7 linked regions of the Homo sapiens genome follow. The protein of the gene in region 3 interacts with the protein of the main gene of each other region in a pairwise test. Each region holds a gene or a part of one and is shown on either strand. Other genes may lie near its edges. The genes, in order: EVL, IQUB, TOR1A, CLEC2B, MGARP, SEPTIN2 and IQSEC1.

What was found.
Region 1: the proteins of TOR1A (region 3) and EVL interact in binary tests that used the Homo sapiens proteins (3 or more experiments, as listed by UniProt).
Region 2: the proteins of TOR1A (region 3) and IQUB interact in binary tests that used the Homo sapiens proteins (3 or more experiments, as listed by UniProt).
Region 4: the proteins of TOR1A (region 3) and CLEC2B interact in binary tests that used the Homo sapiens proteins (3 or more experiments, as listed by UniProt).
Region 5: the proteins of TOR1A (region 3) and MGARP interact in binary tests that used the Homo sapiens proteins (3 or more experiments, as listed by UniProt).
Region 6: the proteins of TOR1A (region 3) and SEPTIN2 interact in binary tests that used the Homo sapiens proteins (3 or more experiments, as listed by UniProt).
Region 7: the proteins of TOR1A (region 3) and IQSEC1 interact in binary tests that used the Homo sapiens proteins (3 or more experiments, as listed by UniProt).

The regions. Positions count from the first base shown.
Region 1 is NC_000014.9:100,130,892-100,135,360, forward strand, and holds part of EVL (ena/VASP-like protein), read left to right. Parts: exon of another isoform or gene 1-1,827; coding exon 1,828-1,888; intron 1,889-2,155; coding exon of another isoform or gene 2,156-2,268; intron 2,269-3,309; coding exon of another isoform or gene 3,310-3,397; exon of another isoform or gene 3,398-4,469. UniProt on the Homo sapiens protein: Ena/VASP proteins are actin-associated proteins involved in a range of processes dependent on cytoskeleton remodeling and cell polarity such as axon guidance and lamellipodial and filopodial dynamics in migrating cells.
Region 2 is NC_000007.14:123,457,805-123,461,595, reverse strand, and holds part of IQUB (IQ motif and ubiquitin-like domain-containing protein), read left to right. Parts: coding exon 1-239; intron 240-3,791. UniProt on the Homo sapiens protein: Adapter protein that anchors the radial spoke 1 (RS1) complex to the A microtubule of outer doublet microtubules in axonemes. The triple radial spokes (RS1, RS2 and RS3) are required to modulate beating of the sperm flagellum.
Region 3 is NC_000009.12:129,816,963-129,821,431, reverse strand, and holds part of TOR1A (torsin-1A precursor), read left to right. Parts: intron 1-2,511; coding exon 2,512-2,687; intron 2,688-2,784; coding exon 2,785-2,912; intron 2,913-4,469. UniProt on the Homo sapiens protein: Protein with chaperone functions important for the control of protein folding, processing, stability and localization as well as for the reduction of misfolded protein aggregates.
Region 4 is NC_000012.12:9,862,827-9,867,295, reverse strand, and holds part of CLEC2B (C-type lectin domain family 2 member B), read left to right. Parts: intron 1-4,469. UniProt on the Homo sapiens protein: Membrane-bound protein expressed on myeloid cells which acts as a ligand to stimulate the activating receptor NKp80/KLRF1, expressed on the surface of natural killer (NK) cells.
Region 5 is NC_000004.12:139,269,548-139,274,016, forward strand, and holds part of MGARP (protein MGARP), read right to left. Parts: intron 1-4,469. UniProt on the Homo sapiens protein: Plays a role in the trafficking of mitochondria along microtubules. Regulates the kinesin-mediated axonal transport of mitochondria to nerve terminals along microtubules during hypoxia.
Region 6 is NC_000002.12:241,321,815-241,326,283, forward strand, and holds part of SEPTIN2 (septin-2), read left to right. Parts: intron 1-2,401; coding exon of another isoform or gene 2,402-2,418; coding exon 2,419-2,427; intron 2,428-4,178; coding exon 4,179-4,299; intron 4,300-4,469.
Region 7 is NC_000003.12:12,898,882-12,902,793, forward strand, and holds part of IQSEC1 (IQ motif and SEC7 domain-containing protein 1), read right to left. Parts: coding exon 3,892-3,912; intron 2,642-3,891; coding exon 2,102-2,641; 3' UTR 554-2,101; coding exon of another isoform or gene 509-553; 3' UTR 1-508. UniProt on the Homo sapiens protein: Guanine nucleotide exchange factor for ARF1 and ARF6. Guanine nucleotide exchange factor activity is enhanced by lipid binding. Accelerates GTP binding by ARFs of all three classes.

The sequences.
Region 1 (4,469 bases), on a different chromosome or scaffold from region 3:
AGTTTCCTGTGAGAGTAAGTCCAGGTGTGTGGGGCTTACAGTGGCCACACAAAGGCGAATGGCTCCGTGGGTGAGAGAGCCGGGAGGGCTCGCAGAACGATGAGGACGTCCCGTGCTGTAAGAGGGACAGTGGGCAGAGTTAAGGTAAGGCTGGGAAGGCTGACGCCCCCTGTGCCTGGAGAGCTAGGTGTGGAGGAAATGGACCAAAAGTCAGGCTGGAAGAGGGAGCCTCCTGGTGCAGGGCATCGGGTTCCACCTCAGAGCACTCAGAGGCGAGGATGGGCCACAGAGAAATAGAAATAGTTTTGGAAAAGAAAATATGAATGCTTTCCCTAAGTCCTAGACCAAGCTGAGGGGAAGCACCTTTCTGTCTGAGAACAGGAAAAGGCCAGTATTGCCAGGAGCCAGTGAGATGCCAGATGCCGGTGGGAGAGTCAAGGCCCTCCCAAGAACAAACATGCTTTGCATAGCTCAGCAGGGATCAATCAGGTGCTCTCTGAAATCCACCTCAGTGATGGCTACTGGGTGGAGCCGACGATGAAAGTGCCCTTGCCAGGTTTCTTTTCATGTAGGTTGTCTCCCGCCTCTGAGGGCATGCAGTTGAGTCTCCCAACAGTGGAGGGCAGGAGGGAAATGAACGTGGACAGAAAGCTCCTGTTCAGCAGCACTTTCACAGACACTCATCCCGCCTACACTCCCCGTGAGCAGGTGGCTTGGTCAGCGTTCTGTTTCTAGGAGATGGGACACTGGCTGCTGGGGGGTAGCTGGTGAGGTGTAAGTGATCGTGGCTAGGCCAGTTAGGAGACTCTGACAGTCCAGGAAGAGATGATAGGGGCATGCAGGAAGGTGTTGAAGGTGAAGACAAAAAAGACAGGCAGGTACCCAGATTTAGAGAACTGACCAGGCTGACAGTTATAAGAAGCTGGTGTCAGGGATGATTCCCTGGTTTCTGGGCTGAGGGACGAGGTGGGCAGACCTGTCCTGAGATGGGAGCTAAAGAAGGGGGCCCCTGCTGTAGCTGAGGAGGCTGCCAGGTAGGCCCATCACAGACAGGTGACAGCCTGGCCACGGCCCATTATCACACCTCAGACCAGCTCCATGCTTGATGGGCAGCTCATCTCAAGTTGAAAAGCCACAGAAGCGTATCTCTGGGAAACACTGAGGGTCTGCCTGCCTCTGTAGACCTGGGAGGTCAGCAGATACCACTGAGGCCAAAAAATATGGGTGAGGTTTTAGAGTACATGAAACGGGGATTCATACTGGGGAGGTGCACGAACCGACTCAAGGGCGTCACGTGGACCTATTCCAGGGCTCCTCTTCTGAGCATTTCCAGGCTCTGAGTGGCATTCTAGATTGGGGAGGGCGTGGCTGGGTTAACTGAGTTCCAAGACACAAGGGCCTTAGAGTGACACAAGAAAGTGTCCAGTGTCCCGACCTGTGGGACAGACTGCAGCCCAGAGAGATGCCTCTCTGTCCCGTGTGGCCAGGCCTTCAGTGTCCTGGGGACAGAGCGTGCCCGCCTCCCCTCCACGCCTCAGATGCTACAGCTGCTGCCAGTAGAGCTAAACAGACATAGAGGCATCTCGCCCTCTCTGCCTAGACCAGTTTTGTGTCCCAGGCCATGACCACACGGAGGGCCTGGACATTTGCCTGGGCCTGGCTCCTCACCAGACGGGGCCTAGACAAGCCGCCTCCTTCACGCCATCGTTTTCCCACACAGGTTTATCTGAGGACCGGGGTGAGTCTGGCAGGGTGGAGGCAGAAGAGTTCTGGGACAGTGAGAGAACGTGAGGAGCTGATCTGTATCTTCCCCTTCTCTGTGCCTAGGAGAAAAGCAGCCTCCCAGTCAGACAAGCCAGCCGAGAAGAAGGAAGATGAAAGCCAAATGGTGAGCAAGCAGCCCGCCCCACCCTCAGGCTCCCCACTGAGATGAGCGCATCGCCAGGGAGGCTCTCTGGTCTCAGGCGAGGCCTTTGGGACATGCGTGGGATGGGCGCTTCATCAGGTGATTCACAGGAGGGGCGGAGGGTCTCTGCGGTGCTTGTCCCTGCGCCACCCTGGCCCCAGCAGCAGGCCTGCCCTCACTGAGCACCCCCTACCAGACACTGCTCCACCCTTGGAGCTGCAGCCTGAGGCGCTGGCCGCTGCACCGCAGGGCTACCTCGCCTTCCCAGGAGCCCCGGGGAGCACAGACCAGCCAGGGTCTCGGCGGGACTGGGACTCCAGGAGTACACTGCAGAGGGGCACGTCTGCCAGAAGCCCAGAGAGGTTTTTATTTTCAAATTATTTCTGTTTCTAAAGACTCCTCTTCCAGCAGGAGCTTCAGGTGAGCTGTGGCAAAGGAGCCCTGGACCCCTGGCTCTTGTCCTTACCAGGCAGCCCAGAGCCAGCCTGGCTGCCAGAGCTCCCAACATCTGCTTCCAGTTAGGGCGGCTAATTCTCTTTTCCTCCATGTTAAGCTTTTCCTATAAAAAGACTCCTACTGACAGGGCTAAGTTTAGCCTTAACTACAAATGCCTTGAAGGTTCCACCTCAGTGCAGAATCAGAGAGGAAATAAAACTGCCAGGGACCAGAGCAGGCTTCCTGCCCTGTCCTCCCATCAGTCAGGGTCATGCTGGTGTTACCCTGAGGCTATAGCCCTCCCAGCTGATCCACGCCTCTCAGCCCCGTCCTGGGCACATATGGGTCCCTTTGCCCCACCAGCCAACTCCCATTCAGCCTGCACTTCCCTGCATCACCCTTACACCTTAAAAAACAGCCTCCCGGCCGGCTCAACACTTCACACTTGTAGTCCCAGCACTTTGGGAGGCCGAGGCAGACGGATCACCTGAGGTCAGGAGTTTGAGACCAGCCTGGCCAACATAGTGAAACGTCATCTCTACTAAAAATACAAAATTAGCGGGGCATGGTGGCGCATGCCTGTAATCCCAGCTACTCGGGAGGCTGAGGCAGGAGAATTGCTTGAACCTGGGAGGCGGAGGTTGTAGTGAGCAGAGATCGCACCATTGCACTCCAGCCTGGGCAACAAGAACGAGACTCCGTCTCAAAAACAAAACAAACAACAACAACAAAAAAACAGCCTCCCGACCCCCAGGCCTCACAAAGCTCCTCACTACTTGATCCCAGCCCCGGTCTTCTCCCGAGGCCCTCTGCACAGGCACGACTGCTTGTGGAGACTCGTTGTCTCCTGCCAGATCTTAGGCCCTTGGAGGGCGAGGCCTGGGCTTCTCACACGTCCACCATTCCCATACCTTGCACATGCTGTGGAGTTTAGCCAACTGACTTGCCATGAATTTCTGAAATTGCAGGCCACGGGATAATCACAGACATCAAAATACTGTGGCCTCGCTCCAGCCACAGCCCTGGGGATCTGAAGACATCGCTGGCCTTTCTTAGTCAGGTGCCAGTATGTTGCAGTCCCAGCCCCTGAAAACTAAAACTCTCGCTCCTGGAGCTCTAAGAAGAATGGATTTCAAAGCCCAGGGGCTTCTGGAAGAGGAACATTCTTGAAACCTTCAACCCCAAGGATAGCACTCTCCTCCTCAGACCCCCATCTTTTCTGTCTTGTTTTTCACAGGCCCCTGGCTACAGCTGGTTCTTGTTTGCCATGGTCCCTTCTCATACCCAGGACTAGCGTCTAAAGAGAGCAGGGCCTTCAGAAGATCCACACACCACACAAGTGCAGTGGGAGGGAGAGAGGCTGATGGCCGGCACTCGTTTTCTTGTTCATGCTTCCTGGTATTTCCCCAATTCTCTGCAGTGAACATGCACTAAGTTTATCATTAACAGAGAAGAAAGAAGGCTTATTTGAAAGACGAAAAGAGCCCCAAATGTGGAGTCCGGTGACTTGGGCAGGCCCTCTGCCATGGCAGAGCTGGCCCTGGGCCAATGGAGTTACTGCTCCGAGGACCAGTTCCACCACCTGAAAACCTGCACCCAGGCATGGCCGCCTCACAGACTGTGCGACTGCCAGAGGTGGGGTGCAAGTCTCTGTGCCCAGGGCCTGGGAGTGCTGCGGCCACCTCTTTCCCAGCCTAGAGTCAAAGCATAACTTCCCTTTTAAGCAGGGAGGGTTTTAAAAAAATAACATACAAGAAAAGATGATAATTTTTTAGTGACTCTGATGTCACCCTGTATCGCTTTCATCGTGGCCCCCACATGTGTGTGTTGATTGACATAATCTGTTATTCAGCTGTCTTTAAAATGAGGAGGCCTGAGAACCTCATCCCAGCACCTGCAGGCTGGCACCTGCTTTTGCCTCTCGACCAGAGCCTCCCGGGACTTACTCGTTCACCACACAGATACGCAGGGCGTTCCTGATTCTCGTGTGGGGATGTAGTGAGCAGAGGAGACAAAGCAAAGACCTCTGCCCACGGTGACAAGGGAGAGGTTCTTTGCTTCAGATCAGAATGACACATCAGGTTGGGTGGCCGCCTGTCAACAGCTCAAATGCTGTGCATTCTGCTTC
Region 2 (3,791 bases), on a different chromosome or scaffold from region 3:
ACCCATTGAAATTTTATAAGAAGATTTACTTTTGCCACAGTTGCCAGCTTTATTTGCCTTCTACAGAATTTTCTGTATCATCCACCTCACGCCGCATATACCGGTGTCGTAACTGCATTAACCTTCAGAATGAGGCTCAAAAACGAGAATCATTTTTGAAGTACAAATGTTTACTTCAACAGCTCTACTATACAGAAGCTGATTATGAAGATGATTCTAAAATTGCTTTCTTGATGCAGGTATGGTCAATAAGGGGTGCCAATTATAGCTGAAGCTTGTCAAGGAGGCTATCTTGCAATCTTATGTATGTTTGTGTGTGTGTGTGTGATTGTTTAATGACTCTCTATTCCACTAGACTGTAAGCTCTGTGAGGGCAGGAGTATGCTTTTTTTCCCTCCTGCTCACCATTATACCTCTATAACCTAATACAGTACCAAGTTTTTATTTAAGGCCCTCAATATTTGTTGAATGAATGAATGACTTTTACAGAAACTGATGTTACATATACACATACTAGTGTTTACGAATAACAGTAATAATTAGTGTAAACCAAATGTGACCATAATGGTAAATAACACCAAAAGTGAAAGCTAAGGCTTATAGAAAGTAAAAAAAAAAAAAAACCTTAGGGAAAGGCTTTGATACTTGTCTATGTAAAGTGTTGATATGATACCACACAACTGGAAAGTTTCTGGCCAGAGTTCTTTTGGATGAATCATTGCATTGGATCATTGACCCTACGTAATCTGCTTCTCGTAAGAACTTCTAGCTCTGTGAGAGGGTGGAGCCTGTGAGATCAGGAATTCTGACCTGAATTCCTAACTTAACCACTACTTCGGTCTCTTTGGTTATTCCATGTCTTCTATTGGGTTTAGGCCAGAGGATAGTCTGTGTCTCTACAAAATAAAAACAAATTCCTGACACTGTTTGGACTTAGGTAAGCAAGTGAGAAAACAGAAGGACTTACTTGTTGTTGATATGGCTACCCAACATTAGCCACTTATTAATAAAAGTATATTATAGAGCACAATTGACCTCATTAATGATATTTGTGTTCACAGACTGTCAAATAAGGGCAAATTTTCTGTAAATTAGTTACTAATTAAAATGAACTAAATTGTATTTAATACCAAATAGGAAAGTAGGCACTACTATGAATAGAAAACTTTATAGAGATTAAAAAAAAGATACCAAATGTGATGTGCTTTGTTAAAAAATTCTTCTAAATCCATAGCTTTCAAACTTTTAAATCTCAATCTATAGTAAAAATGTATTTTTATGACAACCTGATATAGGCATGCATGATAATTCTCAATACTCAGTACCTATATGGCTTTACACACTTTATTGAGTTAATCAGCACAAAAATCCTATCAAAATAGGCATTATTTCCATTCTGCAGGTGAGGAAAGGGAAGCACTGAGTGGTTAACTAACTTGTCCAAGTTTACGCTACTAAGTACCAGCACCAGGATTGAAAACTAGGCAGTCTGATTCCCAGCATCCGTACATGTAAACACATGCTGTTCTGCCTCAGAAATAAAAGTTTCCAAAATAGTGTTTATCTTTACCCCTATGGATGTACTCTGATATTTTCTATTCAATCTCAGTCTACTTATTCTGATTTCCATTTGGAAAACTTTGGTATCACCCAAGAGGTAGCAACCCACAGTTTGAAAAGCACAAATTAAAATGATTACATATTTTGTCCAATAGAATGAATATTTTGTTAATAAATTTGATGTTTATTTCAGCTTAAATTCTTATTTGCTACTTTTATTCAGGAATTATTGACATGACAGATGTATATTTCCTTGTAGAGAATCTTAGATGTACTAGGGCTTTAATGTAAGTCACCAAGAAGTGCTGGCTCAATATTCCATGTTGTATTAGTCAGATTTCTCCTGAGAAACAGAACCAATAGAAAATGTTATACATATATGTTATATATATATACATATAAGGAGATTTGTTACAAGGAATTTGCTCACATAATTGTGGAGGCTGGTAAGTCTAAAACCTAAACAGCTGATGGCCCAGTTCAAGTCTGATGACCAGCAGGCTGCTATAGAGCCAGGAGGAGCCAGTGTCTCAATTCAATGGCCATTAGGCAGAAACAGTCTTCCTTACTTGGGGACAGGGTGAACTTTTTGTTCTATTCAGGCCTTCAACTGATTGGATAAAGCCCACTCACATTATGGAAGACACTCTGCTTTACTCAGTCTACTGACTTACTTAAATGTTAATCTCATCCAAAACTACCCTCACATAAACACCAGAATACCGTTTGACCAAATATCTGGGTATCCGGTGGCATCATCAAGTTGATGTAAAATCAACCATTACACATATTGAATGAAAAAATTCTAGGGGAGCATTGTAACCTTTCAGATAAGGATAATCTCCATTAGATGTGATTTAATTTCAGTACCGTATCTATGTAGGGTTTTGGTCTATTACTTTTCCAATGTCTAGGATTAGCAGACAAATATGAGTGTCCAGTAGCTTCCCCCCCCTTGTAATTGGTGTAGTTTTGATTAATATTTATTTCAGTAATAGTATTTGAGGCATAATTTGAATGTTTGAACATTCTCATAAATAGTAAATCTTGTGGACAACAGCAAAGATTAGCATATGTTAAATGTGAACATGATGCCATGTAAAATGAAAAGGTGAAAGTTAATATATATAAAAAGTAAACATTCTGCTTAGACAAGAGATTTGAGTGTTGTACTAGTCACCTCGTTTATCTGTAATGCATACAAATACTGCCTAATATAATAGGCAATAGTATTGCTCTGTTACTGCAAAAATTTCAAGTACAATGACTACTTGAAAGGTAGAAAGCTCTTAGAGACTGTCAACCACACTTATGTGCACATTTGACATTTACATGCAAATAAACACGTTATTCTGTATGATACAATTTCAAAATTATTAGTACAGTTGAGCAACTAAATTAAAAACAAAAATGTAAACAAGATGCATTTTGAATGTAAGTAAAATATATAAAACATTGAATTTTAAAGGTCTATAAATTTATTTTTCATAGCAGCTGTGTACAGAGTATTGTCTTTTTTAGCATTAAGTAAAAGCTAGAATGCATTAGTTGAGCTTAATATATTGAATTACCAATTTATGAAATACTGTTGTAGCTGATGATGACAGGTTCTTTTTGTTTTTTACTTTGGCAGATTGTTTAGGTTTTGTGTACTCATTTTACAGAAAATATTTCTGCTCTCACACTTTTTCACAGAAGCTTTTTTAAAAAATATTCTTTTTACATGCTTATACTTTGTTGAGTTTGTCCGTCTCTGGCAATTCTAAATTTATAATGCAGACCCCATGATAAAAAGTCATTCCAAGAGTTTTAGCTGATAAGATTTACGTTTTTTAAAAAGTTTTAAACAGCTATTTCATTACCCCTCTTTTTGATTAAAACAACCAAGTCTTTTAATTAACACTAAGTGAATTACTTATCTTTATTAAATCTCAACTTCCTGTGTTTGCTTCAGCAGCCCATATACTGAAATTGGAACCATATAGAGAAGATTAGCATGGCCCTTGGACAAGGATGACATGCAAACTTGTGAAGTGTTCCATATTAAAAAAAAAAAATCTCAGCTTCCTCATTTGTAAAATGGCAGTAAAAGGTTTTAAAAGGTCCCTACAATGGCCCTGAAATTAAGATGGTACTTACTAATGAATTTTAAAGATCATTCAATACCATATGTTTATTATGGTAACATTATAGTATTATTAAGATTATATTCAGGTAAAATTAGCATACTG
Region 3 (4,469 bases):
AGTGCATAACATGTACCTGGTGCATGTTACAAATAAATGTTAACTGTTGCCTTTTAGATCCTTGTAGCAGACCTGCAAGATGGGCAAAACAGTCAATTATTTATTTATTTATTTTTGAGACTGAGTTTCATTCTTGTCACCCAGGCTGGAGTGCAGTAGCACCATCTGGATCTTGATCTCGGCTCACCGCAAACTCTGCCTCCCGGATTCAAGTGATTCTGCTGCCTCAGCCTCCCAAGTAGCTGGTATTACAGGCACCTGCCACCACACCCAGCTAATTTTTGTATTTTTAATAGAGACAGGGTTTCACCTTGTTGGCCAGGCTGGTCTCAAACTCCTGACCTCAAGGTCATCCAGCTGTCTCTACTTCCCAAAGTGCTGAAATTACAGGTATGAGCCACCATGCCTGGCCTCAATCAGTTATTTATCCCTGACTGTATCTATGGAAAAATGTGAACACATTTTTCCCTTCTGTCTGGGTGAGCGTGTGGGTCACCCACTGTCCAGCGGTTCTGTACTAAAATGCGAATGTTCCACGGGTGTGGTGGCTCATGCCTATAATTCTAGCACTACGGGAAGCCAAAACCGGCTGATCCCTTGAGCTCAAGAGTTCCAGACCAGCCTGGGGAACATGGTGAAACCCCATCTCTACTAAAAAAATACAAAAAAATTAGTCAGGCATGGTGGCATGCACCTGTAGTCCCAGCTACTTAGGGGGCTGAGGCAGAAGGATGGCTTGAACCTGGGAGGTCGAGGCTGCAGTGAGCAGACAGCCACTGCAGTCCAGCCTGGGTGACGGAGTGAGACCCTGTCCCAAACAAACAAGAACCATTCTAGACGAATCAGGATAAGTTGATCATCTTAGAATTGAGGCTTCACTAACAATAACTGTGACTTTGGGCAAAGTTACTTCACTTGTCTGTGCCTCAGTTTTCTCATTTGTAAAAGAAGGAGCACAATGGTAACTACCGTGATGGGTTTTGGGAGGTCACAGTAAAATGTTCTATGAACAGACCAGGTGTGGTGGCTCGCGCCTGTAATCCCAGCACTTTGGGAGGCCGAAGCGGGTGGATCACAAGGTCAAGAGTTCAAGACCAGCCTGGCCAAGATGGTGAAACCCCATCTCTACTAAAAATACAAAAATTAGCTGGGCGTGGTGGCAGGTGCCTGTAGTCTCAGCTACTCAGGGGGCTGAGGCAAGGGAATCGCTTGAATCTGGGAGGCAGAGGTTGCAGTGAGCTGAGATCATGTCATTGCACTCCAGTCTGGGTAACAGAGCGAGACTGTCAAAAAAAAAAAGTTATATGAACAGTGCTTAGAATATTGTTGTTCCCATAGTGAACACTCAGTGCATGTTCCCTGTTATTGCATATAAGTTTGGTCACCAGAGTGAGAAACCTTGGCTGCTGGAGCCTAACAGGTCTGAGTGAATCCTTGTTTATTTTATTTATTTATTTTATTTTATTTTATTTATTTATTATTATTATTATTTTTTTTTTTTGAGACGGAGTCTTGCTCTGTCTCCCAGGCTGGAGTGCTGGAGTGCAGTGGGGTGATCTTAGCTCACTGCAACCTCCACCTCCCAGGTTCCAGCGATTCTCAAGCCTCAGCCTCCCAAGTACCTGGGATTACAGGCGCCTGCCACTATGCCTGGCTAATTTTTGTATTTTTTTTTTTAATGGAGTCTTGCTCTGTCGCCACGCTGGAGTGCAATGGCTTGATCTTGGCTCACCGCAACCTCCGCCTCCCAGGTTCATGCAATTCTACCTCAGCCTCCTGAGTAGCTGGGACTATAAGCACCTGCCACCATACCCAGCTAATTTTTTTGTATTTTTTTTAGTAGAGACCAGGTTTCACCATGTTGGCCAGGCTGGTCTTGAACTCCTGACCTCAGGTGATCCACCCACTTTGGCCTCCCAAAGTGCTGGGATTACAGGCATGAACCACCATGCCTGGCCCTAATTTTTGTATTTTAATAGAGATGGGGTTTCACCATGTTGGCCAGGCTGGTCTCAAACCCCTGACCTCAACTTATCCGTCTGCCTCAGCCTCCCAAAGTGCTGGGATTACAGGTGTGAGCCACCATGCCCGACCCCACCCCCTTTTTAAATAAAAATCAGTATCCTCATGACATCCCACATTGCCCCTTTGATGACAAAAGAGCAGCATCTCTGACAGCATCCGTGTGGCATCTCGCAGTGCGGGAACCGTAACCAAAGTATCGGGCTTTGGAGTGAGACAGGACTGGGTTCAGGTCCCAGCTCTGCCACATATAGTCTTGGGCAAGTGGAGTAAGCGCTCTCTGTGCCTCAGTTCCCTCATCTGTAAAATGAGAACGATAGTGCCCACTCCATGGGGTTGGTAGGAACAAAGAAGATTTTGGGCATGTAAAGTTCTTAGTGCCGAGTGCACAGTGGTCTGTAAGTGAAGCTGCGGTTCTTAGTGGTAGAAGGAGCTGATTGATGGCCCTGGCTGAGAACTTTGTGTTCGCTTTTTCCCCTTTTAATTCAGGATCAGTTACAGTTGTGGATTCGAGGCAACGTGAGTGCCTGTGCGAGGTCCATCTTCATATTTGATGAAATGGATAAGATGCATGCAGGCCTCATAGATGCCATCAAGCCTTTCCTCGACTATTATGACCTGGTGGATGGGGTCTCCTACCAGAAAGCCATGTTCATATTTCTCAGGTAAGGTCAGGGCTAGGACATGATGGATGGGCCCCGAGCCCAAGCCTCTGAGCTCCAGGAGAAAACCCTGTCCTTACCCACTGGGATTGTTTTGCAGCAATGCTGGAGCAGAAAGGATCACAGATGTGGCTTTGGATTTCTGGAGGAGTGGAAAGCAGAGGGAAGACATCAAGCTCAAAGACATTGAACACGCGTTGTCTGTGTCGGTTTTCAATAACAAGAACAGTGAGTAGGGCCATCCACCGCCAGTCCCATCTGGTTCCTAATCCTGCACCCTAAGTGTTAAAAGCATCAGGGTCACTGTCAGCATCACCTGGGAGCTGGGTAGAAAGAAATGCAGATTCTCAGTCCCCTTCCGAGTCATGAGGGGAATCTTTGCTGATGAACTCCAGGTAACTTTTATGAACACTAATGTTTGACAAGTGCTGTTTTATTTTTATTTTTCAGATAGTTTTACTCTGTCACCTAGGCTGGAGTGCAGTGGCGTAACCTTGCCTCACTGCAACCTCTGCCTCCCGGGCTCAAGCGATTCTTGTGCCTCAGCCTCCTGAGTAGCTGGGATTACAGGTGCACACCATGCCCAGCTAATATTTGTATTTTTAGTAGAGATGGGGTTTTGTCATGTTGGCCAGGCTGGTCTTGAACTCTTACCTCAGGTGATCCGCCCACCTCGGCCTCCCAAAGTGCTGGGATTACAGGCGTGAGCCACTGTGCTCAGCTTATTTTTTGAGACAGAGTCTCACTCTGTCACCCAGGCTGGAGTCCAGTGGTGTGATCTCAGCTCACTGGAGTCTTGACTTCCTAGGCTCAAGTGATCCTCCAGCCTCAGCTTCCCATGTAGGTGGAACCACAGGCTTGCGCCACCATGCCTGGCTAATTTTTTTTTTTTTTTTTTTTTTTTTTTTTGGTAGAGACTGGGTCTTCCTATGTTTCCCAGGCTGGTCTTGACTTCCTGGACTTAAGTCATCCTCCCGCCTCAGCCTCCCAAAGTGCTGGAATTATAGGCATGAGCTACATACCTGGCCTGCTGTTTTTTTTTTTTTTTTGAGATGGAGTCTCGCTCTGTTGCCCAGGCTGGAGTGCAGTGGCGCGATCTCGGCTCACTGCAAGCTCTGCCTCCCAGGTTCACACCATTCTCCTGCCTCAGCCTGCCGAGTAGCTGGGACTACAGGCACCTGCCACCACACTCGGCAAATTTTTTGTATTTTTAGTAGAAACGGGGTTTCACCATGTTAGCCAGGATGGTCTTATCTCCTGACCTCGTGATCCGCCTGCCTCGGCCTCCCAAAGTGCTGGGATTACAGGCGTGAGCCACCACGCCTGGCCAGTTCCCCCATTTTCTTCAGCTACATGATTTTCTTTGTAGAAGAAAGAGCCAGTGGTTGAGCAAGGAAGGATGCCGTGGGCAGCTCAGGGGGAGAGATGACCTGTTAGTTCCTCCCTTTCTCTGCATTGCCCAAGAGCAACAGCCAAATAGCGGTTCGGCCCTTATTTTGTACTGGGCACCGTGTGAAACAGCCTGCCTGCGGATTTCACTCAGTCTTCACCATACCTCGCAGGGTAGAGACTGAGACTCAGAGATGTGGCAGCTTGCCCAGGGCCATGCAGCCTGTTCGGTATCTCTGATTCTAAAACCTGAGCTTTTAAGTTTTAGCTCACTACTTCTCCAAATGTCATGAGACCTTTGACCTTGAACCTGGGGAGGTGGAAAGCCAGCCTGATGGAGGCTGACTCACTGGCTAAGACCTGTGAGTTGTGCAGGGCTGGCTGTTCAAGTCTTTG
Region 4 (4,469 bases), on a different chromosome or scaffold from region 3:
CCACTGAATGGACAGGACAGTTTACTTACTTTCTGTCATTTGGTGGTATTGAGAGTGAGAGATTTCTTCCAAGGTTATATGAAGTTTCCCAGGTTGTATAAGACACCAAAGTGTTATAATGGTCTCCATTCATCAGTTTCCACTGATTACACCTGAGAAGACCATGTTCCAATATAAATGACCTCTTCGGGTCTAGCTCTGCTATTTTGTGCTGAACTCATAACAAAAGCCACACTGTTTCTTTGCCACATTTAAAGTACGATCATCTTTTTTGAAGCTGGGGTCATCTGTACGTAAAATCTACCAACTCTGTATACACCACCAAGTCCTTATACTCTAATACCTTGCCAACTTTGCAATGGAAAGGGCTCCTATTTTCCGCTGTATCTGCAAATTGTCATTTCTCATATTGTCAGGATGTGCATTGCCCTTCTCTCTACCTGTTAGCTCGAAGTTATTTCCTCTTTTTAAAATCCCTTCACAATTTTCAGAAACATTACTTCAATAAGCTAGATTTTTTTTTAATTGAAAAGGCCATTGATTTAAGCAGCTTAGGGTTTTCTTTTCAACAGTCATTCTGGAAGAAAGAATATCAAAATGGTCTGACTACCTCCTTCAAATAACAGATATGAAATTGACTCAAAAAATACTTCCACTTGCTGCAAATGTAAATAATCTTTACACTCTTAACACACACAAAATAATTAAAATATTTAAAAACAGGACAACTATAACACAAGAAAAAAATAATAGCAAAAGTTACCTTTTATTTACTTCCTGTTGTAACTATACTTTCTAAAAACACAACACACATATGCTCTTTAAAAAAAAATAGAAGTGGTACTAGTTAATGGATGAAGAGTATAGGATCAAATGGGGGTAAGAAAATACAATTACATGCCACAAAGGTTTGATCAAGATTTTGAAATCATGATATCTCTAACATCTATATTTTTACATTATGCCAATTCATGGGGAGAAAAACGGAATGACATACTGACATATTTACTTGATTCATGGCATTGAAAACAGAGAAAAAACTTCCTGTCTTTTCGATACCTGAGGTTTAAAGAAAATTAATAAATAATTCATGATATTAATAAGGTTATATATGAAAGATAAGAAACCTCATCAGAAAGAGCTTGATTTTTTAACACTTCTTTTTTCTACTAATTTGGGGTTTGGTTTGTTCTTGCTCTTACAAATCCTTTAAGTTCATCATTAGGTTATTTATCTGAAGTCTTTTTACCTTTTTTTAAAGGCATTTATTACTATAAACTTCCTTCTTTGTACTGCTTTTCTGCATTCCACAGATTTTAGTTTATTGTGCTTCCATTTTCATTTGTTTCAAGAAATTTTTAAAATTTTCTTAATTTCAACATTGACTCTTTGGTCGTTAAGGAGCACATTATTTAATTTTCATGTTTGTGCAGTTTCTGAGGTTTCTCAAGTTATTGACTTCTAGTTTCATCCCATTGTGGTCAGAAAAGATACTTGATTAGATTTCTACTTTTTTTAATTTATTGAGACTTGTTTTTTGGCCTACAATGTGGTCTGTTCTGGAGAATGCTCCATGTACTGATAAAAATAATGAGTATTCTGCAGCAGTGCTTCTGTACGTGTCAGTTGGATATATTTGGTAAAGTGTGCAGTATAACTCCAATATTCCTTGTTGATTTCCTGTTTAGATTATCTGTCCATTACTCAGGGTGAGGAGTTAAAGTCCCCCAATATTATTGCATTGCAGTCTATCTCTCCCTTTAGATCAATGAATGTTTGCTTTATATACTTGGGAGATCTGGTGTTGGGTCCATAGATTTTTAGAACTGTCATATCCTCTTGCTGAATTGACCTCTTTAGCATTATATAGTAACCTTTGTCTCTTTTTAAAGTAGTCTTTTAAAGTTTTGTAATCTATTTTATCTGATATAAGTATAGCTGCTCCGGCTTTTTTGGTTTCTATTTGCATGGAATATCTTTGTTCATCCCCTTCACTTTCATTCTCTGTGTGTCTTTATAGGTGAAGCAGATTTCCTGTAGGCTGCATACAGTTAGGGTTTTCTCTTTACCAAGTCAGCCACTTTAACTTTATGCTTTTTTTTTTTTTTTTTTTTTGAGAGAGTCTTGCTTTATTGCCCAGGCTGGAGTGGAGTGGCATGATCTCAGATCACTGCAGCCTCCAACTCCTGGATTCAAGCGACTCTCCTGCCTCAGCCTCCTGAGTAGCCAGGATCACAGGCATACACCACCACACCAAGCTAAGTTTTGTATTTTTAGTAGAAATGTGGTTTCGTTATGTTGGACAGGCTAGTCTTGAGCTCCTGACCTCAAATGATCTGCCTGCCTTGGCCTCCCAAAATTCTGGGATTACAGGCGTGAGCCACTGCACCCGGCCTGCACTTTATGTCTTTTAATTGGAGAGTTGAGTTCATTTAAATTCCATGTTATTGTTAAGTAAGGATTTTCTGGGGCTGTTTTGTTGCTTGTTTTATGGTTGTTTTTAAATTTCTCTCTTTTTTCTTTTCTTACTGTCATTCTTTGGGGTTATATAATTTTCTCTGGTGGTATATATTAATTAGTTGCTTTTTATTTTTAATGACTCTACTATAGGTTTTGCATTGTGATTACTATGAGGCTTATAAAAAATCTTATAGATATAACAAGTTATTTTAAAGAGATAACAACTTATATCACAAAGAATAGCAACAAAGGAAAAAAACACTTTTACTCCACCCTCACACATTTTTAATTTAGTTTTCCCAATTCACATATTTTTATTGCTTACCTCTTAACTGGTTTCTGCAGTTATCATTGTTCTTGATAGATTTATCTTCCAGTCTTCATTACTAGGGATATGAGAAGATTGTGCACCACAATTACAGTATTAGAGTATTCTGGGTTTGTGCATACACTTAATTTTATCAGTGTATTTTAGATATTCAGCTGTTTTCTGTTCGTGTGTTTTTTTCTTTTTGGTTGAAGAACTCCCTTTAGCATTTCTTATAAGATATGTCTGGTGGTGGTGAATTCTCTCAGTTTTTGTTTGTCTGGGAAACATTGTCTCTTCTTCATATTTGAAGGTCAGCTTTGCAGGATATGGTATTCTTAGATGGCAGGGTTTTTTTTTTTTTTCAGCACTTAAAAAATGTCATCACTTTTCTCTTGGTCTGTATGGTTTCCACTGAGACGTCTATCATCAGATAAATTGGAGCTCCTTTAAATATTATTTGCTTCTCTTCTCTTGCTGATTTTAGGATCCTCTCTTTTTCCTTGACCTTTGAGAGTTTGATTATTCTATGCCTAGGGGTAGTCTTGTTGGGGTCGGAATCTGTTTGGTGTTCTCTGACCTTTATCTGCCTGAATCTTTATCTCTTTCTCAAGCTTTGTAATACTTTCTGTTATTATTTCTTTGAATAAGCTTTCTACCTCTTGCTCTGGTTTGACTCTCTCTTAAACACCAATAATTCTTAGATATGGTCTTTTGCAGTAATTTTCTACAAGATGTTGGCATTCTTCCTTCCTTTTTATTCTTTTTTTCTCCTTTCCTTGTGTATTTTCAAAAGCCCATCCTCATGCTCACCGATTATTTCTTCTTCTTGATCCATTCTCTTTTGAGAGCCGCTAATAAAATTTTCGGTTCAGCAAATGTATTTTTCAGTTCCAATATCACTTTTTGATTTTTAAAAATTATTTCAATCCCTTTGTTAAATTCCTCTGATATATTTCTGAATTGTTTTTTGTGTTATTTTAGAGACCAGTGAGTTTTCTTAAAACTACTATTTTGAATTCTTGGTACAAGTGCTCACATATTGCCATTTCATTAAGATCTGTCTCTGATTCCGACTTTGTCCATTTAGGGGTATCGCAGTTCCCTGTTTGCTGTTGTTTCTTATGGATATGCATCTATGTCTTTGTGTTGAAGGATTTTATATGGCTTGTTTTGGTTTACATTGAATATGTTTGTTTAAATATTCCTTGTAATTTACCTGTCGATTTTTTTGGGGGTGGGGGGCGGCAGCTAGGTTTCGGCCTCCTTGTTATGACTACATGGTGCCTTAACCCAGGTTTGCCTTGGTTCTAGTAAACAATTAGAGTGCCACTCATACCAAATGAGGGTGCTTCCAAAGGGGATATCCCAGTAGTGTGGGAAGACTGACGAGGTGTTCCAGCCCAGGGGACCTGTGCAACAAACCTCCTATACCATGATGCTGCTCGACAGCCACTCTAAGTTGACATCTCCTTTGGCCAAGTAACAGAGCACAGTTTCTGGTATTGGGGATGGTAGTCCTGCCTCCCCACTTTGTCTCTGCCTGTCCTCGTTCAGGCACCCCGATGCTTCCCAAGTGTTAAGGCAGGGGCAAGTTTCCTGCCAGGAAACTCAAGCTGGTGGGGAAGCTGGTTATCCATCTTGATCTCACTTTTTCCAGTATAGAAATGATGTTTCCATGCCCTTGGGTACCGGAAAGATT
Region 5 (4,469 bases), on a different chromosome or scaffold from region 3:
TTGAACCCAGGAGGTGGAGGTTGCAGTGAGCCGAGATCATGCCATTGCACTCCACCCTGGGCGACAGAGCAAGACTCCATCTCAAAAAAAAAAAAAAAAAGAAAAAAGAAAGAAAGAAACAGTATTGGGAAGAAAGCTATTTTAATCACAGACAAAATGTGCAGGCTTCCTTTCATTTTATATTTAAGTAGTCTTCTTTGGCCTGTATTCATATTAGAAAATGATATAAAAAATGAAAATCTCATTATTCAGTTACTATTGTTTGTATTAATTTAGCTTTTAAGAAAATGTTGGTAGTGGTTTAACTTTTAATGGTAAGATGATAGATTTCTAAAATTTATTTATATATAGTGTCTTCTAAATTTTTAACCATCAGAAACCAAGTACCTTATTTAAAAATTGTACTACTTAATTACAAACAATTTTACAGTGTAAAAATTATGCTGTGAAAATAGAATGTCTGTAATGTCGGGGCCGGGTGCAATGGTCCACACCTGTAATCCCAGCACTTTGGGAGGCTGAGGCCAGCGGATCACCTGAGGTCGGGAGTTTGAGACCAGCCTGACCAACATGAGAAATCTGGTCTCTACTAAAAATACAAAATTAGCCGGGCGTGGTGGCGCATGCCTGTAATCCCAGCTACTCGGGAGGCTGAGGCAGGAGAATCACTTGAACCCTGTAGGCAGAGGTTGCAGTGAGCCGAGATCGCACCATTGCATTCCAGCCTGGGAAAGGAGGGAAACTCCGTCTCAAAAAAAAAAAAAAAAGAAAGAAAGAAAAGAAAAGAAAATCTGGGTCAAGCCTGTAATCGCAGCACTTTGGGAGGCCGAGGCAGGCGGATCATGAGGTCAGGAGATGGAGACCATCCTGGCTAACATGGTGAAACCCCATCTCTACAAAAAGTACAAAAAATTAGCCAGGAGTGGTGGCGGGCGCCTGTAGTCCCAACTACTCGGGAGGCTGAGGCAGGAGAATGGCGTGAACCCAGGAGGTGGAGCTTGCAGTGAGCAGAGATCGTACCACTGCACTCCAGCCTGGGCGACAGAGCGAGACCGCGTCTGAAAAAAAAAAAAAAAAAAAGAAAAGAAAATCTATAATGTCGGGTAGAAGTGATGTAAAGTGACCCTTTTATAGCAAACTTCCCGGGGTTTAGTGAACTCAGACTTGAATCATTTGGCTTTGAAACATACAGAGCAAATATGATCAACGGGAATGATAATCAACATTTTCTGTATAAAAGCAAGGAATATTTTCCGAGTAGGGTGTGTGTTCCTGACACCTTGTAGGACCAATATGATAAGTCAGTATCCCCAGTTCTCAGTACACAAACCGAACCAGTACACAAGTTCACATCCCTGAAAGGATCATTCCAGGAACAACATTCCAAGGGACATTAGTCTCATTGCTCAAGGGGCTAAAACACAAGGCAAGAAAAAAGACTAACTTTAGGGAGAATTGAAGAGATACAATACTAGAATAATTCACCCTAATGTGTGGCCCAAAGAATCTAGGTTTTCCAAATCCAGCACAGTCGAGCACAGAGTAGAATAAAGGCCTATTAAAAGAGAGGGTCTCAAATTTAGACTTTGGCAGTTATTTACAAATGATATTAAGTATTTATTAAGTATAAGCATTTAAAATATACTACAATTTTTATAAGCCAGTCTGGTACTACTTTTTAAGATATACCAGACCAGGCCGGGCATGGTGGCTCACATCTGTAATCTCAGCACTTTGGGAGGCCGAGGCGGGTGGATCACCTGAGGTCAGGAGTTCGAGACCAGCCTGGCCAACATGGTGAAACCTCATCTCTACTAAAAATACAAAAATTAGCCAGGCGTGGTGGCAGGCGCCTGTAATCCCAGCTGCTCAGGGGGCCGAGGCAGGAGAATCGCTTGAACCCGGGAGGCGGAGGTTGCAGTGAGATGAGATTGCGCCATCGCACTCCAGCCTGGGGGACAAGAGATACCCAGACCCTCAAAAAAACTGGAGTGATCTGGGCCTCTTTCAGATTCCAATGACCCCTAATAGTCGAGGATTTTGATTGCAAATGGAAAACTGCTTTTGGCTACTAAGCATCTGTGGGGTCAATTCATAAAAATCTAATATAGAGATTATTTTAGTACAGGACATGAAATGGAAGGGGAGAACAAGTATACAGGTTTTGGAGTGCCTTACATTCAGCATTTCCTCCTGAAAGTAGCCTAAGATTCCTGGCAATTAAGGCTTCCAACATTTGAGATTAAAATCACATAAACTTAGAAATGGAAGGGAACAACTTCCATCCCTACTGTGAGAGAACAAGGCCAGAAAGGGTTCTCAGGGATGGCTGGTTTATAAATGTATAACCTTTTAGTTTAAGATTCCTTTTGCAACCAGTGAGTTAGCAGTCTGGCAAAGTTTGTTTTTGGCACTGGTACATATTAATATAATCAGGGGTATAGTGATGTCCAAATGAAATTCATCCTTCTAGCTTCCCAGCCTATCACATGGCCTAGTCTCAATCTCTGTTTTTTTTTTTTGGTGGCCTACACCTCAACTAGAGTGGGTTTGAGCCATGAATTCAACATTAAACAGTAGAAAGATGACAGAACAAAGGAATCTGGGCACAAGTGAAAGCTGGCAGATTAGTAGAGGACAACAATATAAGTGACAAGTTTGCAGTTTCCTGACTCCTTGAGGCTCTCAAAATTCTGAAGATTATGACTAGCCTTAAAAAAATTTCTAGGCCGGGCTTGGTGGCTTATGCCTGTAATCCCAGCACTTTGGGAGGCCGAGGCAGGAAGATCACGAGGTCAGGAGATCAAGACCATACTGGCTAACACAGTGAAACCCCGTCTCTACTAAAAATACAAAAAAAAATTAGCTGGGCGTGGTAGTGGGCACCTGTAGTCCCAGCTACTCAGGAGGCTGAGGCAGGAGAATGGCGTGAACCCGGGAGGTGGAGCTTGCAGTGAGCCGAGATTGCATCACTGCACTCCAGCCTGGACGAGAGCGAGACTCTGTCCCCTCCCAAAAAAAAAAAAAAAAAAATTCTGAGGATTAGAATATGTATTTTGGTTTGGTTTGGTTTGGCCATCTTACATAGTCCTATGAAACTGCTTCTAGTTATGACTAAACATCTCTTTATTCATATTTCTTTTTTTTTTTTTTTTTTTGAGACGGAGTCTCACTCTGTCACCCAGGCTGAGTGCAGTGGTGCAATCTTGGCTCACTGCAACCTCCGCCTCCCCGGTTCAAGCAATTCTCTGCCTCAGCCTCCAGAGTAGCTGGGATTACAGGTGCCCGCCACCACGCCCGGCTAATTTTTGTATTTTTAGTAGAAATGGGGTTTCACCATTTCTTGACCAGGCTGGTCTTGAACTCCTGAACTCGTGATCCACCCACCTTGGCCTCCCAAAGTACTGGGTTTACAGGTGTGAGCCACCGGCCCGGCTTTATTCATATTTCCGTAGGTCCAAACCAAAATATAGTGACTGTGTACTCTTAGAGTTTACAAAGAATTTCTGCTTATTCTACTTTTATTCTTTACATTTTTTGTAGAGATGGGGTCCCGCTATGTTGGCCAGGCAGGTCTCAAACTCCTGCAAGCAATTCTCCTGCCTTGGCCTCCAACGTGCTGGGATTATAGGCGTAAGCCACCACTACAGGCTCTACTTTTATTCTTTTTTATTTATTATTATTTTTTTTGAGACAGGGTCTTGTTCTGTTGACCAGGCTTGAGTGCAGTGGTGCAATCTCAGCTCACTGCAGCCTTAACTTCCCAGGCTCAAGCGATCCTCCCATCAAAGCCTCCCAAGTACCTAGGACCACAGGCACACACCACCACGCTGGGCTAATTTTTTTATTTTTTATTGTAGAAATGAGGTCTCACTGTGTTCCCCAGACTGGTCTCAAACTCCCGGACTCAAGCCTCCCAAAGTGCTGGGATTACAGGCATGAGCCACCGCATTACTTTTATTCTTTTTTTTTTTTTTTTTTTTTTGAGACAGAGTCTGGCTCTCTCACCCAGCCTGGAGTGCAGTGGCACAATCTCAGCTCACTGCGACCTCCACCTCCTGGGTTCAAGTGATTCTCCTGCCTCAGCCTCCTGAGTAGCTATGATTACAGGCACCTGCCACCATGCCTGGCTCATTTTTGTATTTTAGCACAGATGAGGCTTCACCATGTTGGCCAGGCTGGTCTTGAACTCCTGACCTCAGGTGATCTGCCCACCTTGACCTCCCAAAGTGCTGAGATTACAGGCGTGAGCCACCATGACTGGCCTACTTTTATTCTTAATAAAGATTATATTTTGATTTAGAAAGTTTATGACAAAATGGTGAATGACTCAAGTCTTAACTTACTTAACTAAAAAATGTCTGTCATTTTAGTCCCAAAATCTCACTATTAAAACCTTTGTCTTACAGGGTTTACCTGGAGGGAATGGACATGGGGACTGGGAAGGAAAATATGCTTTTCACTTTATA
Region 6 (4,469 bases), on a different chromosome or scaffold from region 3:
TGATTACCTTTTTTTTTACTTTCATAATCAGATACTTATCTCTGTATTATTTGAAAACGAGATGCCAACTCCTTCTGCCAAAACTGTCTGTATTACATCTGACCCTTCTCTTTCCCTTTAGGAAGTTCTACTCCTCCACACTCACACTTGCTCTCAATTCTTAGGTTTTGCTGAAATTAAAGGCTCTTGAACCTTACTGCTACTATCCCTTGGTTAACCAAGCCAAATAACACTGGGGATGCAGGGATCTCATTTCTTCCAAAGTAGCTGGGAACATTTCCAGTCAAAAGGGAAACAGAGGACACAGTATTCAGGAAGTTAAGATTTGGGGGAGGGGAATCGAGAGGCAAAGTGAGAGAAGCTTTTTAATAAGTTTCTAAGCTCCAGAGGGAACCAAATTTGACAGCAGTCATCTTTCTTGGGGTTGTTACTGAAGGTTAGCCAACAGACTCCATGCTTTCCAAAGCTTCAGGGTTTCTAAAATTTGTTTAAAAATTCCACATATCTCTGGCTGGGCACAGTGGCTCACACCTGTAATCCCAGCACCTTGGGAGGCTGAGGCGGGCGGGTCATGAGGTCAGGAGATCGAGACCATCCTGGCTAACACAGTGAAACCCCATCTCTACTAAAAATTAAAAAAAAATTAGCCGGGCATGGTGGCGGGCGCCTGTAGTCCCAGCTACTCGGGAGGCTGAGGCAGGAGAAGGGCGTGAACCCAGGAGGTGGAGGTTGCAGTGAGCTGAGATCACCCACTGTACTTCAGCCCGGGAGACAATGCGAGACTCCGTCTCAAAAAAAAAAAAAGAAAAGAGAAAAAAAAATTCCACATATCTTTAAAAATATTGTCACATTTTTCAGACACTCAGATGCCTTCAGTACTATTTCCTTTCCTCATAAATGTAGTTCACATTGCTCTCTGTACCCCAGTGTCAAAATCTAGTTCTCAGGTAGCTCTAGGAAACTCCAGTGGGTGGCAAACATGTTCAAGTTACAGTGCTCTATGTAATGAAGTCCCTTACTCCTTGAAAGGTTTCAAAGAGAGAGGGGAAATGACATAATTCCAGAGGTCAGGGAAGTATGTATCCGTGTGTATCCCATTTGTGTCCCTAGTGTCTAACATATAGTCAGTACTGAAAAAAAATTTGAATATTATTGAAAATATGGAATATGTGCGTACATATATATATACAGTTGCTTTTATCAACTTAAAAATTTTTTTAATTTTTTAATTTTTTGTAGAGATAGGGTTTTGCTATGTTGCCCAGATTGGTGTTGAATTTTTGGCTTCAAGCAGTCCTGCCTCTGCTTCCCAAACTGCTGGGATTACAGGCGTCAGCCACTGCACCCAGCCACCATCTAATTTTTTTTTTTTTTTTAATGGAGTCTCACTCTGTTGCCCAGGTTGGAGTGCAGTGGCATGATCTCGGCTCACTGCAACCTCCGCCTCCCAGGTTCAAGCGATTCTCCTGTCTCAGCCTTCTGAGTAGCTGGGATCACAGGCACGCACCACCACGCCTGGCTGAATCAGTATTTTTAGTAGAGACGGGGTTTCACCATGTTGGCCAGGCTGGTCTTGAACTCCTGACCTCAAGCGCCACCATGCCTGGCTGAATCAGTATTTTTAGTAGAGATGGGGTTTCACCATGTTGGCCAGGCTGGTCTTGAACTCCTGACCTCAAGTGGTCTGCCTACCTCGGCCTCCCAAAGTGCTGGAATTACAGGCGTGAGCATCACGTCTGGCCTAATTTTTTTAATCGAATTTATTTTTGTAATGATAGATGCTTGTCTTATTCCTAGGGAAATATTTGAAGTAATTGAGATGCTGTCACCTAAAATAATCAAAAGGCTCCTGATTCAGTTAAAAGAATTCATTTAAGTACAGAGTGTAAGCGAGCTACACCAAAGAATGGTGATTAGCGCTCCCAGGGTGGGGAAAAATGAGGATTGTTTATATAGGCAAAATGGAGGTGCCAAACAGAATTATAACATTTTCGGAACTAAGGCTCATTTAAAGATACAAATTTGATTGGCTACTATTGATTACACTTGAAGGGATTTGTTTAACTTCCTTTTGTAAAGAAGTAACAGTCATAAGGATCTCTCATCTCCCAGTCATTTAGTCTAGTTTTGAATAAAGAATAGGGGGTCTGGTTAATATATACATCTAAACACAAAAGTCAGAAAGAATAAAAGTAGTGATGTTACACGAGCCAGCTGTCAGTGCTTAACTTTTCCCTTTGGCCTAATGCATTTGGAAGGTCCTGAAATTGTATTTTCTTTTTACATTGCCTATGTATGTGTAAGTCTTCTTCAGGTCAGTTCACGCTGTTAAATATACGTGCGTATACATACATACTATGTATGTGCGTTTATGTGTGTCTGTGTGTTTTTTTTTTAACAGACGAAGCTTCACAAAAGATGTCTAAGGTAAGATCATACTTCATGTATCTACAGCATAAGGAGAAATTGCTTTATGTTTTCAGACTGTTGACAGTCGGGACTTATATGATTCATTATTTTTAATACAACTGATACATTTGATTCATTAACACAAAGAGTTCTAATTTAGTTGTCTTTTTTTTTTTTTTTTTGAGACGGGAGTCTTGTTCTGTCACCAGGCTGGAGTGCAGTGGCATGATCTCAGCTCACTGCAACTTCTGCCTCCCACGTTCAAGCGATTCCCCTGGCTCAGCCTCCGGAGTAGCTGGGACTGCAGACACGTGCCACCACGCTGGCTAATTTTTTGGATTTTAGTAAATTCGGGGTTTCACCGTGTTGGCCAGGATGGCCTTGATCTGTTGACCTCGTGATCCACCCGCTTTGGCCCCCCGAAGTGTTGGGATTACAGGTGTGAGCCACCGTGCCTGGCCTAATTGTCATCTTAAAAGCTTGGAGCTTTCTCTTTTTTCAGGCTTCTACTTTCTTTTCTCTACACACATCAGTAACAGTCCTTTTGGCCCCCTTAGTTCATTCCCAGCAGACCAGATAATTTAGAATTCTGATAATTTATTATGATGAAATTGATGGGGCTCTTAGACTTGATAAATTGGTTTAAATCAGCCTTTGCAAGTTAGTTCAGAGATAAATTAGTGCTAAAGAACATATTCTGAGAAAAGCAGAACTTGTGGTTAACATTGCAAGATTATTATTTCTGTTTTTTTTTTATCTTTGAATCCTGTGGGTGTTCATTACTGTCCAATGCAAAATCATCATACCAGTTTTTGCATTTTATACCAGTGTTAGCATGGAACACAGATAAGCAAAAAAAAAAGTCATTATTTCACCACTCAGGAATAACCACTGTTAATATGTTACATATATTCTTTTTCACCTGTGTGTGCATTTGACTATACATTTACAAAATGTAATCCTAAAGGAAATACTATTTTGTATCTTGCCTTTTTCAATTAATAAATTGATTTTTAAAATTTCTTCTCATTTTCAGTATGCCACTGTCTAGATTCTGGTTACTTCTGCTATTCTTGCCTTCTCATATCTCTGTCCTCTCTCTCATCAGATACCCTTCTGTCAAGGAATATTGATGCTTCAGTGTAGTCATCTATGATCTTCTCATTCTGTCTTTTCTTTCTTGGTCTTTGACACTAGATACTCAACATCCCACCCCTAATTTGCCTGCCTCACCCTTGATGAAACTCTGTTCTATAGAGCTAGAAGCACAGCAAGAGAGATGCTTTTTTCCTCGATACTTTTCAGAAATGCATTGCACCTAATACCTGGGAGAAGCTATTCTTTAGCCAAGTTTGTTGAATGAAACCATTCATTCAAAGTACTGTCAGCTGTAGCAGTACTTTGTAAGCTTGACTGATTTTCCTGGAACTCCATAGTCTCTCAAGTCGAAATTTGAAATTGCATTAAGATGTATTAAGCATGTATCTTCTATGTATTGTTAAATTCCTAAACAGAATACTGATTAACAAAATGTTAATTTTCAGTCGCATACAACTAAGGAGTTATACTAGATAAGTTTTTCTTTTTTTAATGCTCCTAGTTGAATACTACTGGTTTTCTGATAGAAGTATGACCTTCTGGAAGTGTTTATACTTTTTAAAAAATTTGTGAAAACTGATAACCTATGTTTGTTTCATGTCTAACTGATTATATCTTAAAAGCAACTACTAAGGTGTTTATTAGTTTGTTTGTTTTTTAATCTTATTTAGCAACAGCCAACTCAGTTTATAAATCCAGAAACACCTGGCTATGTTGGATTTGCAAACCTCCCCAATCAAGTTCACCGAAAATCAGTGAAAAAAGGTTTTGAGTTCACACTGATGGTGGTCGGTAAGAAATTAATCTATAGTCTCCAACTTACTAAATAAATATCTCCCCTTTCCAATCTCTGGAGTATGATAACGTGACCTATAAAGAAAGAGGAAAATTTGGCAGAGTCAAATAACTTGAGAATTTGAACAAATATATGTGTATTCATTAGAAAATTTTTCTCAGGAGCA
Region 7 (3,912 bases), on a different chromosome or scaffold from region 3:
AGCCTGGCTTTTAAAAAAGACCCGAGAATTGATGAGTCGGAGACACCAGGGCGCTTCCCTGACAGCCCAGCCTGGACCCAATCACACGGTCCCATGCTGTTTCTTTCTGAGCAGACACCAAAGAAATGCCACGCCAATGGGAGGACACAGGTGGGCGGGTTAAAGTCACATTTTTAAAAAGGCTAAACTCTAGATTGCTGTATTTGCTCTCTCTGGAGATTAACAAAGTGCTTGGTTTGCAGATTTGCTGGTACGGTGATCTCAATGATATGACCGAGGGTGGGAGGGATGTGAGGAGGGAAATCGGCAAAACCCTGGCCAGCCAGCCAGCCAAGGTGACACACAGCCAGAGGGGGCTCCCCTCTCCTCCTGCCGTCCGGCCACGGCTCACCACGCTGTCCACTGGGAACGCGGCCCCGCGGCCCGCAGAGTCAGGCGTGAGCTTCGCCCTTTCTGAAAGGGCCTCCGCCTGGGCAGGCGCCGGGGGGCAGTCCTCGGGTCCCATGGCTTAGGAGCACAGCACTGACGGCTGCAGTGGCTCGAAAGGCTGAAACTACAAAGTATGGCCCGTGGGTGACTCGGGCACAGACCTGCCGCGTGCAGGTCTGGCCCTGGGGAGCGCATGGTGTCACCACAACACAGAAGCGACAAGAGCACAGCTGAGAGTCATGTGATGCCCTGGCAGCTCACTGGACCATGGGAAGGCAGCGGGGGCTCCGCCGGGCACTCGTCGGCTGGGGTCACACGGGCCACGGTGAGGACACAGGGGTTCTGCTAGCACATGGCTACATGGAATTACGGTGATCACTGCTACCACTCAGAAAACAAAACGGGAAACACACACACCGCCCTGGGTTGCTAAACGCTAAAGTCAACCTTCAGGTTCGAGAGTGGTTCCTGATGAAAACACTCTCTGAGGGCTTCGGCCTGGTGTGGGTTGGAGGCGGGATGAGGACGTTATGGTGTTGGGGAGACGAGGATGAGAGCTGGTCACTTTCATGTTGGAGATGAACACTTCTGCCGTGTATGGGTGCCCCTCTCGGAGGACTCTGAATGAGTGTGCGTCAAATCATATGCGCATAAAAGAAACATGGATCATGGAGAGTCACAGTTATCGCAGCCATTAAAGTGTCTAAGAATCCGTGTAACCAATGTCCTAAGACAACCAGCTTGTAACCAGCTGTCCTGAGTTGCTACTGTAGAGTGTACTGCAGTTTAGCTATTTGCTTACCTGAAATAACAGCATTATAATACTATTTATGATAGTATTCTGTTAATAAAATAAGGATTTATACAAAGCAATACTGGACTTTTTAAACAGTTAGATGCTATGTTACTTGGCACAGTTAGTAATGATTGTGTAAAGATTTTAGCCAGTCCTAGAGGGACTTCTTTGTATGAAAATATGAAGTATCTGAATTTGTTCCTAGCATTTAGGGTTTGGTCTATTGTCTCACACACCCAGCTAAGGTACTGTCTTCCTATTAGGTAAGTGGAGCTCCTTGTAAGGTGGGTATTGCTAATGTGGACTGAAACGCCTGCCTTTCACACACAAGTACTACCTATACAGTATATATATATATATATTTATATATTTATATATTTATATAAAGTTTACTTACGTATTTTCATCAACCATATCAGGTCTACTTATTTTTTTGCCCATTGTCAATAAAAGAGCAATAATGCAGCAAGTTTTGGGGTTTGTTTTGTCTGTTTTTGTATCTCATTTCTTCGTTTTCTAGGTTGGGTTTTCATATGCATGTACATTAGGGCACAGGGAGCTGAGAGCTGGAGTGGGGGAGGCAGTTCAACACTACTTGGCTGGCTCACCGTTTCAAGGCTGATGGTGTCTGAGGCCCACCCATCCCTCAGACTGAGGTGAGCAGAGCCCAGGGTGCCAACAAGAAATGAAATCTGGGCCTTTGTTCCACACAACACCAGCCCTGTGGGCTCCTGGGGCTCCGGTTGGGCCGTGAGGGGCAGAGGGGAGAGATGGCAACAGAAGTGCCCCGGGTTTGGTGTGCGGCTGGCGACCCCCGGGCGTGCCCTGTGTGGTGTGCAGGTGTTTCAGGGAGCCTGGGACCCCTACCCAGGCTGTCTACACAATTGTGCTGATGCCGCTGGGTTTGGCCTTGCTGCTGGTGGGGGGCGGCGGGGCAGGGGGCTGCCCATGGTGGTGCACTGTGTGCCCCACGTGGGCCGAGGGCAGCGGCGGGTGGCCGTGGGCATGGGCCCCGTAGGCTGGGTGGCCCCCATGGGGGCCGTGGTGGTACTGGTGTGCGTGCTGGATGTGCTGGGGTGGGTGGTGGTGGTGGTGATGGTGGTACGGGGGAGGGTTCTGCATGTGGCAGTACTGGGTGTGATGCCCGTGCATGGCGGCCTGCGGCAGCCCCTCTGGGGGCCCCAGGTGGTGGCCAGCCACAGAGTGCTGCAAGTGAGGCAGGACCACCGGTGGGTGGGGGGGTGGCAGGGCTGGGGCTGAGGGCAGGTGGGCCTGGGGAGGGGGCTTCCCTCTCTTGCTCCCGAATAAGGAGCCCAGGAGGGAAGATGAGTTGGGCATAGTCTGGTGTGGGCGAGATGGACACTCTCGTGTTGATGTAGCTCTCCGGCGCATGTGAGGACTGCTAATGATGGACCCCTAAAAAGGAAATTCATAGAAATCAAAATTAAAAGATCTTCAAGCACTTAGGTCAGAATGATTTTTTTTTTTCAAATGTAAAAATTCACCCACTGACTGCTAAGCTTTAGTTCAACTCACTGGCCAGAGGGTGGGGCTCAGTGAGGCTGGACTGGGCCCCGCCTCCTCTCACTACAGTGCAGGGCAGCTGGGGGTTACTGGCCTTGACCAAAGTGGGGAGTGAGGGCAGGGGAGGGGCCCATCTCTCTGACCACCACGGCAGAAGTAGGACTTCTGGTCTCATTCTGACAAGCACTTTGGCCCTGGCAGCAGCCTGAGATTTCAAATTGGAACCCCTAGGTTGGGGTGTCTGTGCGCTGTGTGTGGCGAGTGCAGAGGGGCTGATGTGCCTGGAGGAGGAGCCCTGCTCCTGCTGAAAACAGGGCCCTCAGCTCTCCTGGGACTGCTCAACTGGGCTGAGGGCATGTGCTCCGCCCATGTGGGTCCTGAGGTCTCGGGGGAGGTGGTGACAGGGACAGGTGGGGCTCAGAAACCTTGTCCTCTGGGAGAATGGGCTGCCTAGGCATTTCACTACAGCTGCCTACTACAAACCAAACAAGGAAAAAGAAGGTAACAGAAAAAGATCTGCAAGCTGAGGTAGAGATGTGAACAGTAATACAGAGATGGCCGGAGGATGAGTGAAATATCATGAAATCCACACTGAATCTCTTTCTCTCAAGACACTCCTCCTCCCACAAGCTAAGCAATTCCATGGTGTCCTGCCGCAGACACACAGCAATCAAACTCCAAGAAGAAAGCGATGAGGATGGGCGGGCGTGGAAGTCAAGGGTTCAGCAAAAACATCCAACAGCAAGTGTGGAGGGTGAGTGGGAGCCGGGTGGCCCGGGCGGGGGTGCCGGAAGCTGGGGATGGTCAACCATGCTCAGGGACCACAGGTGATGGGGTTAAGCAGAAACCAAAACACAAAATCCAGAACCACCCCCACTGTTGAGTCCAAAACAAGCGGTGAGAGGCATGGATATTTCTAGGCACAGAGGAGAAGCTGACATGCACAGGGTTCCAGGCAGGCAGGGGCAGGGAGTGGGTGTCTGCATCTCTGTGCAGTAGGGGAAGGAAAAGCCAAAAAAAAAAACAACAAAAAAAAAACCAAAAAAAAAAAAAAAAAAAAAAAACCAGGACAACAGATATGAACTGAGGACTGGGGAAGGCGACACAGGACAGCCAGCTGGACAGAGGCGCTTCCTACTTACTTCCACATTGCTCTCTAGCGA